Linked DNA regions of Homo sapiens. The protein of the gene in region 3 purifies or fractionates together with the protein of the main gene of each other region. This does not show direct contact. Each region holds a gene or a part of one and is shown on either strand. Other genes may lie near its edges. The genes, in order: FRMD6, NKTR and ZNF543.

What was found.
Region 1: the proteins of ZNF543 (region 3) and FRMD6 purify together in Homo sapiens (affinity purification with mass spectrometry; one large-scale study listed by BioGRID and IntAct). This does not show direct contact.
Region 2: the proteins of ZNF543 (region 3) and NKTR purify together in Homo sapiens (affinity purification with mass spectrometry; one large-scale study listed by BioGRID and IntAct). This does not show direct contact.

Annotation. Positions count from the first base shown.
Region 1 is NC_000014.9:51,658,284-51,661,935, reverse strand, and holds part of FRMD6 (FERM domain-containing protein 6), read right to left. Parts: intron 1-3,652.
Region 2 is NC_000003.12:42,642,170-42,645,821, forward strand, and holds part of NKTR (NK-tumor recognition protein), read left to right. Parts: intron 1-331; coding exon 332-427; intron 428-1,169; coding exon 1,170-1,226; intron 1,227-1,729; coding exon of another isoform or gene 1,730-1,732; coding exon 1,733-1,834; intron 1,835-3,652. UniProt on the Homo sapiens protein: PPIase that catalyzes the cis-trans isomerization of proline imidic peptide bonds in oligopeptides and may therefore assist protein folding. Component of a putative tumor-recognition complex involved in the function of NK cells.
Region 3 is NC_000019.10:57,319,144-57,323,283, reverse strand, and holds the start of ZNF543 (zinc finger protein 543), read right to left. Parts: upstream 2,813-4,140; 5' UTR 2,431-2,812; coding exon 2,413-2,430; intron 1-2,412. UniProt on the Homo sapiens protein: May be involved in transcriptional regulation.

The DNA.
Region 1 (3,652 bases), on a different chromosome or scaffold from region 3:
GGCCTCCAACATTCCCATTTCCAAAGTCCCACTGCACATCCTACCAGGCATATTAAAATGTACCCACATCAATATTGAATATTTGTAATATACAAAACTGAATTACAAGTAATAGTTATCTTTCATAAATTTTTTATTCTCTTTGAACCCACTCCAATAAGGTTTTCATCTCCACTTCTCCAGTGACACAGCTCTTGTCATCATCACCAATGACTCCCCAGGTTGCTAAATCCAATGAGCAACTCTCAGTCTTCACCCTGCTTGACTTCTCAGCAACATGTGAGCTAACTGATCCACTCTTCTGCTGGAGATATTTTCTTTGACTACAAGGACATTTTTCTAATTTTCTTCCTATCCTCTGCTTGCTCCTTTTTAATTTTCTTTTACTGATTCCTCCTTATCAACACAACCTCTAAAAGATGAAGCATCCAGGTTTAGCCCAAGACCATCAACGCAATTAGAAAAACAACTCATAGTTCATTCTTCCATTGTGTAGATCAATAGAGTTCACAATATCTTCTAGTGATAACATTGTTACTCAAGGAATGGAGACACTTAATTGGGTTCACTATGTTGGAAAAACGTGCATAATTACTTTGGCTTAAAACACTTCTTGGATTATGTGTGTGATTTCTTCTTCTCTCTACAAACTGTAAATACTGATATGCCCCAAGGCTTGGTCCATAAGCCTGTTTCTCTGACTACACATATTCCCCAAGTGATCTCACCCAAATTCTGTTGGCAACTTCCAAATTTGTATCTCCAACTTAGACCTCTTCCCTAAATTCCAGATTCCTACAGCAACCAGTGATTCTATTAAAATGCAAATCAAATCCTCTCACTCCTCTGCACAAAACCTGGCTCCCCATTCCACTCACAGTCAAGTCCTGAATACAGTCCACACAAGCCAAACATGTGCTCTCCAAACATCTCTAACCTTATCTACTACTCCTTCTCTCCCTGCTCTCAGTGCTCCACCACTGTGGCCTTCTCCCTGCTCCTGGAACACATCAGGCATGCTTCCGCCTGATGCCTTCACTAGTCCCTCTGCTGCAACACTTTTCCCCCAGCTAGCTCTGTGTGGCTCTCTTCCTCCTTCAAGCCCTCTTCTCAGTGAGGCCTACCTTGACTATACTCCACCAAATCGCAAAGTCCCTGCCTCCCTCCCCCAGCACTCCTACTGTCCCTTAGCCTGCTCTACTTTTTCTTTTTCCCATCAGGCTTATTACCTTCCAAAATACTACAACACTTATTTTCTTATGCTGATTGCCTCCTAATAGAATATAAGGTCCACGAAGGCAGAATTTTTTTTTTTTTTTTTTCCTTTATTTTATTCACTGACATCTCTCAGACCTAGACCAGTGCCTGGCATATCCTAGGCATACATTATATTGAATGCATGAATTTAAACATTTAATAATTTTAATTTCATAGTTGTCTTTTAATATTTGAGATTTTTACCAGATCTTGCACATTCTGTTGCTACTAGAAAAGCCCCTTTTCTATGGGCTTGAAGGATAGAAAAATCTTAGCCTGACTTCACTAACCAGTATAAATCCAGTGGCCCCAGGAAGGCTGGGAACATCCTATGTGATCATCCTTGATTTTGGACCCTAAAACGAAAGCTCAACTTCACACTCATCTGGAAACATCTAATATCTTTTCAAACACATGTATTTTGTTCCCCCAACTAGACATGAAACACATTGACAGAAATTGCACAAAGTATTCAGCACAGTCCTGAATACTTCATAAAGACATAAAACCTGGCTTTTGATGGACTTAGTGAACATTTTTAAAGTGCTAAGTTTACTAAGCTCAAGATTTTACACACACAATCAAAACGGGGAACTGGGTTATCTGGACTAGGTCCCCCGCCCTTTAACAAACAGATCAGAATGATACAGCACGATTCTTCTAGAGGATCCTGTACCTTTTTTAGCTGAGCTCGTAATTAGGCTAGTTAGATGAAAATGTATCTTTCTAAGGTGTTTAACTGTGTCTTTCTTAAGTTTCTTTGAATGAATGGTTTAAAATCTCAAACTCTGGCCCTCATAACAGAAAATCACAAATGGTTCTGACCCACATTATATAAACTGTGCCAATGGTTAGGGGTTGGGAATAAAGAACTGCTTTATATCAATAATAGTGGCTTTCTTCAGAAGTACTCACATGAAGCCATACAGGGAACATGAGCAAAAGACATGGGCCAGTCAGTGGTACTCTTTAAAAGAACTTTGCACAACATCAGTCACCGTAAGGAGAATTTTAAAAATCTGCAGGCTGGCTTTTTTGACATATGGAAAGAAACAGTTATCTAGCAGACAGAAGCTGAAGGACTGAGACGGCTGGAAATTAGAAGAGAATTAAGAAAAATAACTCGATCAATTAGTAATCAGTGCAACAGGCCAGCTGCTCCTACTGCAGCAACACAGACTTGCCAGTATCTGTAACTGAGAAATACTAGGTTTTGTTGCCTGCTTAATGCCATCAAAAAACAAAGTTAAATCTCATGAAATGCTTATAAATGAAGGCTTGGGAACCTCCAATAAAACTATAAGTCCTTTTATACATCACTTCTTTTTGTCTTAAGCAGCAATAGCTAACATCACGTAAGACGTTTATTATATATCAAAGACCATGCCATTTGTTTTACACGTACCATTTCACTTAAAAATAAGAACAATCCTGTGGGATAGCTATTATAACTATCTCCCACTTTACTGATGAGGAAAAAGAGGTGTAGAGAGTTAAGTAACTTCCCCAAGGTTACACATGGGAGAATACTGGAGTCTGGATTTGGGCCCCAGGGAACTGATCTCGAAGACCTCATTCCTATCATTATATTTTACTATCCCTCTTCTATGCTGTCTTCAATACGGATTACGCTATTCTGTAGTAATTTCATGAGCAACTTGTCAGAGCTGTGGCCCTATGGTCAGCATATTTTTTACTTGTTAACATTACATATGCTAAATTTTTGCTGTGATAAGCAGTATCTTATTCGGGTAGGATATATAAATACCACATATTTATAAAATTCTCTAATTTTAACTTCTCTTCACCTTTTTAATGAGCTTAAGCTGAAGCTCTGAGTCTTTTCTTAAGTAATAAAACTGTCCTTTATTCTTTAGGGAAACATAAAATAAAATGTATACATGAATAGTTTTCCTTTGCAAGCACTTTGTTTTATCTGTTAGATCTCTCAGTGAAATCATAATCTTATGTTTTACAATAAGTACTTCCTGGAGACTGCCACAGATTTTAGCGTCAGAATTTCACTGCTGCTCTCAGTAGACAAAGATTGGATGTTTCCAGGGATCTTTAAGAAACGATAACTGGATGGGGGTGGAAGGAAGACACAAAAAGGGAGAAAAGAGGGAGAAGCATAAAGGCAGGAGAAGTCCAAAAACTGAATTTTTGAAACATTTTCTTAAGGATGAATTATTCCAAAAATATTGACAAAGCAGTCCTTTGAAATTAGGGTCCATCCTAGATCATTTATGGATCAACAAGAGTGAATCAAGAGGGACCTCAAGAGATCTCCTACTTGATACTTACAACCCAAAGTCTCATTAGGAAGCCCTAGAAGTGAGAGAGAGAGAGAAAAAAGGGAAAAGGCAAGCCCCAACAGAGCTCTGTATGGAGGGCA
Region 2 (3,652 bases), on a different chromosome or scaffold from region 3:
TATATCTCTACCTTAATGTTTTTTTAACCCATTCTACCATTAGTGGAGATTTGGTTTATTTTCTTCTCAGTGTTATTGGTGTTATAAATCAGGCTTCTATGAACATACTTGTGCCAATCTTTTCTTGTTTTTCTTTATTTTCTTCTGTTTGATTTTAACCATGGTTGTTTTGAGAGTTCCTCATTAGCTGACACTGTCATATCCACTGTGAGGAGTTTGTGAGAGGCCTTTCTTCTTGTTGTGTTTTCCCCTTTCTGCCCTACCAGTAATTAATTTTAATATCATGATGAGTCAACATAATTATATATTTTTTCAATTGCTTTAATTGTAGATCAAGAAGCTACTCTAGAAGTCGGAGCAGAGGATGGTACAGCAGAGGCCGAACCAGAAGCCGGAGCAGTTCCTACCGGAGTTACAAAAGTCACAGGTGAGCTTGTGATCTCACCCTGTGATGTGGTCTCCATCATGTCCACTTTTTAAGGCTACATAGGCAGAGGGGGTAGTTGTTGAGAAGAATCATGTCATTACTGAATATACTACTGGCCTATTTTCTCATGTAGTTTTTTCTATGTAAGAGCTGTGGAATTCTTGACTATTCCTCTGTTGGGATCTTATCAGAGTGAGGCAAGAGGAGCAGTAGAAATATTTAAGAAGCCTTGACCCCTACCTCCACCTCCCCCACATGCATCTTCCTTAACCTAAGTTTTACATCTGCATTCACCTCTTGACATGGGTTAGAGATTGGGATAGGAAGATTGTAGAGAGGGGACCAAGAGGAAGAAGTATATATATGGTGGGAAGGGTGGCCCCAGATTTCTAGTTCTCCTAGCTTCTTTCCCTCTTTTGCATCTGAGGTATTTTCTACTGCTGTCACTTCACTTTACTTACAAAGGTCCTACCTGTACAGACCTTTCCCCTAACTCCACCCAGTTTAGAGCCTCCCTAGTGACTATATGCATCTCAGAGAAGAACTGCATAAAACTTGATCTTATGAAATCCAATAGGCTTTTTAAAAAATCCAATATACTTTTGATATGAAAACAAAACAAATGTAGCTGTGGGATTTCACTGTATTTTCACCTTGATGGGCAAATAAATGTCTAGATATTTGGTATAGCCTGTCCTGCCCTGATCTATAAGATGATGGTCCTTCATGTGATTAATATTAGGACGTCCAGCAGGAGCAGATCCAGGAGCAGCTCATATGATCCCCACAGTCGATCCAGGTATGAACAGGGATTGGGAAACCACCAGTGGGGCAGAACTGAAAGATCTTGTTTTGTAAACTGTTTGTTCAAAGTGGTATTTTATTGAGTAACTAAATGCATATATTTGTCTCCTGAAACCATACCTTTTCTAAATGAGGTCTGTTCGACAAGTTTTATCTGTTGGCCCATTGTACTCCAGTGTCAAAAATGACAATATCAAATTGTAATGGCAGGTGTTTATTGAATATAATTGCCTACAGAGATCCACCAGGTTCAAACTAACTCGTTAACTTTGTGATATTTTTCAATGCAGAAAAGAAATTAACATTTTTCTCTTTAATTATGGTAAGTCTCATTTGGGGCAATTGTTAAATGTTTCCAGTACTTGTTTTGGAAATATATCCTCATGCTGTCACCTAGTGCCCATGTTCTAAGCTAGAACACTCCTGAGATCCTAAAAAGAAATAGGAACATATGAGTATCTGAGTGGGAAAATTTAGTGTTTGTTGTTGCCGTTAAAGCAGGTCCTACACCTACGATAGCTACTATAGCAGGAGTCGGAGTCGAAGTAGAAGCCAGAGAAGTGACAGTTACCACCGAGGCAGAAGTTATAATCGGCGGTCCAGGTGGGTCTCTCTCCTTTATCGTCCTTTATCGCACTGTAGGCCACGGTGGGCACTTGATGTGGGAGGGTGATGGGCTGCTAGTGGAAGAGAAAGTGGTATAATCTTCCAAGGACAGAAATACTTCTTCCTTTAAATCTGAACAACCCACAAGCAGCCACTAAAAGTGGCTTTTATATTAAGAGTTGCCAGGTAATATTTGTTGGTTATTATTAATGTTTGAATCTAAAATGGGTTTCTAAATATTCACATATCTTGGACAGACCTTTCTTTTGGAAAGAAAGAAGGCCACCCAAACCATGGCCACTTGCTTAAATAGAACCACTTGCTAGCAGTAGCCAGTTTCTCATTTTTTTTAAATAAAAAAATACATAATATAATTTGCTTCAGCAGCAGGATTGAGGTTTATATGTTGTCAATTATTTAGTAAAATACATTTTTTATGTATTATATGTATTATGTTTAACATATTTTGGCTTCTGCAAAAGTCTTTATGTTAACTTTTGTACTGTCCTTTTCTGGTGGCTTCTGGTCTTGCCTTCCCCTGTCCATTGCAACTGCAATGATGCTTGTAAATATCAGTCTGATCTGGATACTCCCTTGCTTGAAACTCTTCAAGGACTCCCTGCTGCTTTCATGATCAGGTCCAGCCTCCTCAGCACCAACTCCAGCTCACACTCTTTCTGGCTTCCCTCCTTTAAAGTGTTGGGACTTTTCCTTCTGCCTGGAGACACACGTGTCCTCTTCACCATCTCCCCTTTTGCCACTTGAAATGGCCAGTTCCCATCTACCCTGCAGATCTCCACTGTCCCTGGGCAGCCCTCCCTGATGCCTAATCCTAGGATACAGTCCCTCCCATGTGCCTCTAAGACAGCCCTTTGCTCCTACTGTGGCTCCCCTTGCTCCTAAATTACTTGTCTTGCTGACTATTCTATTCTGTCCTTGAACCCCAGAGAACTATACTTGGTTTTGTGTCTTTGTGTGTGTGTGTGTGTGTTCCCAGCATCTTGCAAAATGCCTGGCTCACAGTGAATGTTTTTCAAAATAACTGAATGGGACCCATGACCAGGTCCTCTTGACTCAATATCCCAGTGGTCCTGTTCATGCCCAGGGCCACCCCCACCCCTCATTGGACCCCATTTTGGTTTCCATTCCTTGAGTGAAACTATTTGTGCACCTTTTCCCCATTACTTTTCTCAGGTAATCTATTCAAATATTGATACTCATTTTGGGTAATATGGGGAAACTATTCTGCTCATTGGTTTTTTGTTTTTGTGGTCCCAGCATTTGCATGAATGAATTTCACACAAATTTCCTAAGATGTGATGTTTCTTTATTTTATCTTAATCTTGACATTACTACAACTTGTCATTTAAAACAGCTTCAAAAAGTCCATAGTGTGAGTCGGGCACGGTGGCTCACGCCTGTAATCCCAGCACTTTGGGAGGCTGAGGCAGGTGGATCGTCTGAGGTCAGGAGTTGAAGACCAGCCTGGCCAACATAGTGAAACCCCGTCTCTACTAAATAAAAAAAATTAGCTGGGCGTGGTGGCGGGCACCTGTAATTGCAGCTACTAGGGAGGCTGAGGCAGGAGAATCACTTGAACCCGGGAGGTGGAGGTTGCAGTGAGTTGAGAGCATGCCGTTGCACTCCAACCTGGGCAAAAAGAGTGAAACTCCATCTCAAAAAGAAAAAGAAAAGTCCATGGTGTTGCCATAGTCAGTACCCTACCTCTGTGTTATGCTGCATCAATAGTGCATCAGTTATATGAGTGGCTTGAAAACACTATTGATGTTTTCAAGCCACTCATATAAAAAACAA
Region 3 (4,140 bases):
GGAGGCGGAGCTTGCAGTGAGCCGAGATCGTGCCACTGTACTCCAGCCTGGGTGACAGAGCGAGACTCGTCTCAAAAAAAAAAAAAAAAATTACAGCAGTGAAGAGAGAGAAGCCTCCTATGCAGAAAGCCACTTCACACAGAAATAAGGTTAGGACAATCCTAAGGGGACTGAGAGGCAAGACAGTAAGTGCTCTGAGACATCAGAGGAATGGGAAAGAATAATAACAAAAACAACACCAGCAACAACAACAAGAACAGCACCTGAGTCTTACCGATCCTCCCTGTGAGCCTGCCTCATGCTAATGGCTTTACATGCCATGGTAAAGTGACTAAAAGTCCCCAGCTCAGGAGTCAGACTCCTGAGGTTTAAAACCAAATTCCTGAAATCAACACAAGCCTGCTATGTGACCTTGGAAATCTCATTTCATTTATCTGAGCCCTGATGTCCAGGTCAACACAACAGGGTTTTCCACTTCACCAAGAATAGTCAAAAGATCTGAAGAAAAGCTGTAAAGGAAACACTGGGGCAAAGGGCCACAGCTCCTGAGTTCACCATCATCATCTCCATGTCACACTCAGAGACTTGAGGTCCAGGACCTCCACTAGTCTACCCAAAGTCACATCTCTTATCAGGAGAGACAGAATTTGAACCCAGGGCCCTATGGTCTATGTTCTAATCATGCAACCCGACACTCCTTCATTAGCAAAGTTAATGCACAGTTAATGAGGATGGGAAACATTGAAATACATCCATTTGAGCCACCCTGAAAATATTTTCAGGATTTTTTTTTTTTTTTTTGAGACAGGGTCTCAATATTTTGCCCAGGTTGGGCTTGAACTCATGATCCTCCTGCCTTAGCCTCCCAAGCTGGATATACAGACACATGCCACTGTGCTGGGGTTAGCCACTTGAAATATTTTCATGGACCTGGGCAGAGCAGCATAGTCATAATCACCTACCTCACAGAAGAGTCACCTGAGGTGGTGGCACCTGCCTCAAAAGTGGCAGGGCCTGGACCTGCATCTGCTGCCTCGGACACTTCTGGGCCTCACAGATGCCCATTCTCATAGGAAGAATCCACAACGAGCTATCACTACCTTTTCCTGTTTGAGTCCTACCAACAAGTATCCCTGAGGTCAGGATACTTCAGGAGCAAGGAACAAGAGTCACAGAGGACACAGCAGGTTGTAGCCATGAGAACATGGGCCCCTGACTGGCTATGTCTGTCCTGGCTAAGGAGGAAGGCACATCTAGCAAAAGACCACAAAATCTTGTGTCCCAAGACATGTGTCAGCTGGTATAGGAGAAAACCACTCAGGAAACCACTGTGGAAGCCACACGGGTCCCCTGCGGACTCCTTAAACAACCAATAAACCATTTTTTTTTAGTCCACACAGTTCCACCAGCATGAAATGCCATGACTCCTCATGTCCAAGACCACCTGCTAGAAGGAAGCCTGCTCAACTTGCAAAGTTTACTTTAGGTGTCACCCCCAGGCCTCCCTAACCATTGCGGGCAAAGAAGAGGGTAAAAACACAGGCTGTGATGGTAGACACACCAGTTGTTAGTTTCTGATACTTAAGAGCTACAGTGATGTAAGGCAGGTAATTGAACCTATGTGAGCCTCCAGCTGCTCTTGTGTAAAACAGTGAGGACAAGAGAACCTAATTCTAAGGAGTTCAGGATTAAAGGAGCTGAGGGTTAAATAATGCCTGCCAATCAGCCCACAGCAAGGACTCTTTATGATCAGCTGTCACTCTTTGCAATTATTTCGTTTCTCTTTGTTCACATAACATCCTAGACCAACTCAAACGGCAAGCTTCTTTAATATCGTCAGATTCTCTATACAAAAATGCCACACATTGCCAAAAATGGGCAAGTGCGTAAGGCGCCACTTTAGCCGGAATTGCCAAGAAAGCCACCTCCAAATAGGTGACATCTGGACAGAGGCCAGAAAGATATGAGAGGGAGGCCCTGCGAAGTTATAGGGGCAGTGTTCAAGGCAAAGGGAAGTGCAAAGAGAAAGCCTGGAAAAAGGAAGAAGACTGCACGGTCAGGTTGGTGGCTCTGAAGAGCAAAGGACAAGGGAAAAATGGAGAGACAAGGTCAGGGGTGGTTGGCCAGGTGGATGGGGTAGGGGCTGGCAGGCAACAGAGGAGGTTGGATTTAAGGGAAGTGTGATGAGATCCATGAAGGAAGCATCATTCATCCTTCTACCAAGGACTGAGCACCTGTCGGAGGCCAACACTATTGCAGGACTGCGGATAAAGGAAATGACAAGCTACGGCCACTTCTCTTAAATAAACGACGGCGACAAAGAAACATCCTGTGGCTGTCTTGGCTTCTGCCTGCCCACGAGGCCTCCAGAAGTAGCAGAGCAGCAGCAAGGCCAAAACCTCGTCCACTCACCTGCGCCGAGGCTGCCATCCTGAGACCCTGCAGCCCTAGCGGGGCCCGGGAATGCCGCGGCTCAGCCGACCCCCAGCCCTTCTCTGTCCTGGGCGGGGCGACCTCGGCTGACTTTCGCACTCGGAGCCTCAGTTTCCCCAGAGAAAAATGCGCACAAAGCGGGCGCAGCGTCGGGGCTGAGGAGACGGAGGGCGGCTGCGGAGGCCTAGGCCTCGGCAGGCGCCGGTGGAACACCCCGTTAGGGAAGAAGCGGGGCGTCAGGCTCCCGCCAAGATGCGGAGAAGGCGCGTAACAGCCTCATTACCCTCCCCTGCTCAGGCCGCTGGACGCGCCTACCCAGCGGTCCAGGCCCCACACTGTTCCAGGGCCAATCCTGCTCACGGAGATGACGTCACGCGACGAAGCGGAAGTCCCACCTCCGCCGCCCTGGCCCGCAGAAATCGCCCGTGTCCTGGCCCGTCATTGGCCTAGAGTCCGCGGCCGACGCAAGGGGTGGTGCCTTCTGAGTAAGGCAGTTTTTCCCTCACATCTACCGGGTGTGGGAACTCACCAAGCGCAGCCGACTCCATTTAAGTGCGCACAAGGACCCCCGCGTCGTCTTAGGGCCGCCGCTTTACTATGGGCACAAGTCGGAGGGTCGAAAGGTCCTTTCTAGCTTAGGAAAATTGAGGTCAGGAGGCGGGGATATTCGCCCCGATTGAGATCATGGGCTGGGCCCAGAGCTTCTGGCTCACTTCCCTTATTTTAGGGAGGTAGCTCATATATGTAATCTCAGTGCTTTGGGATGCCAACACAAAATAATTGCTGAGGTCAGGAGTTTGAGACCACCCTGGGCAATATAGTAAGATGTTATATCTACCAAAAAAAAAAAAAAGAGCAAGGCATGATGGTGTACACCTGTAGTCCTAGACACTGGGAGGCTGAAGCAAGAGGATTGCTTGAGCCCAGGAATTTGAGGTTATAATGAGATATGATGAGAGAAAACACACACACATAAACACACTGAGATGCCATCTTATACTGGTCAGAGTGGCTATTATTAAAAAGTAAAAAACCAACAGATGTTGGTATGGATGCAAGGAAAAGGGAACGCTTATATGCTATTGGTGGGAATGTAAATTAGTACAACCTCTATGGAAAACAGTATGGAGATTTATCAAAGAACTGAAAATAGAACTGCCATTTGATCTGGCAATTCCACTATTGGGTATTTACTTAAAGGAAAATAAACCACTATATCAAAAAGATGCCTGTACTTACATGCTTACTGTAGCACTATTCACAGTAGCAAAGTCATAGAATCAACCTAAGTGTCCATCGACAGATGATTGGATAAAGAAAATGCGATATATATATGTATATATATGTATGTATATGTATATATGTATATATATGTATGTATATGTATATATGTATGTATATGTATATATATGTATATATGTATGTATATGTATATATATGTATATATGTATGTATATGTATATATATGTGTATATATGTATGTATATGTATATATATGTATATATATGTATGTATATGTATATATATGTATGTATATGTATATATATGTATATATATGTATGTATATGTATATATATGTATATATATGTATGTATATGTATATATGTATATATGTATGTATATGTATATATATGTATATATATGTATGTATATGTATATATGTGTATATATATATACACTCCATGGAATACTACTCAGTCATTAAAA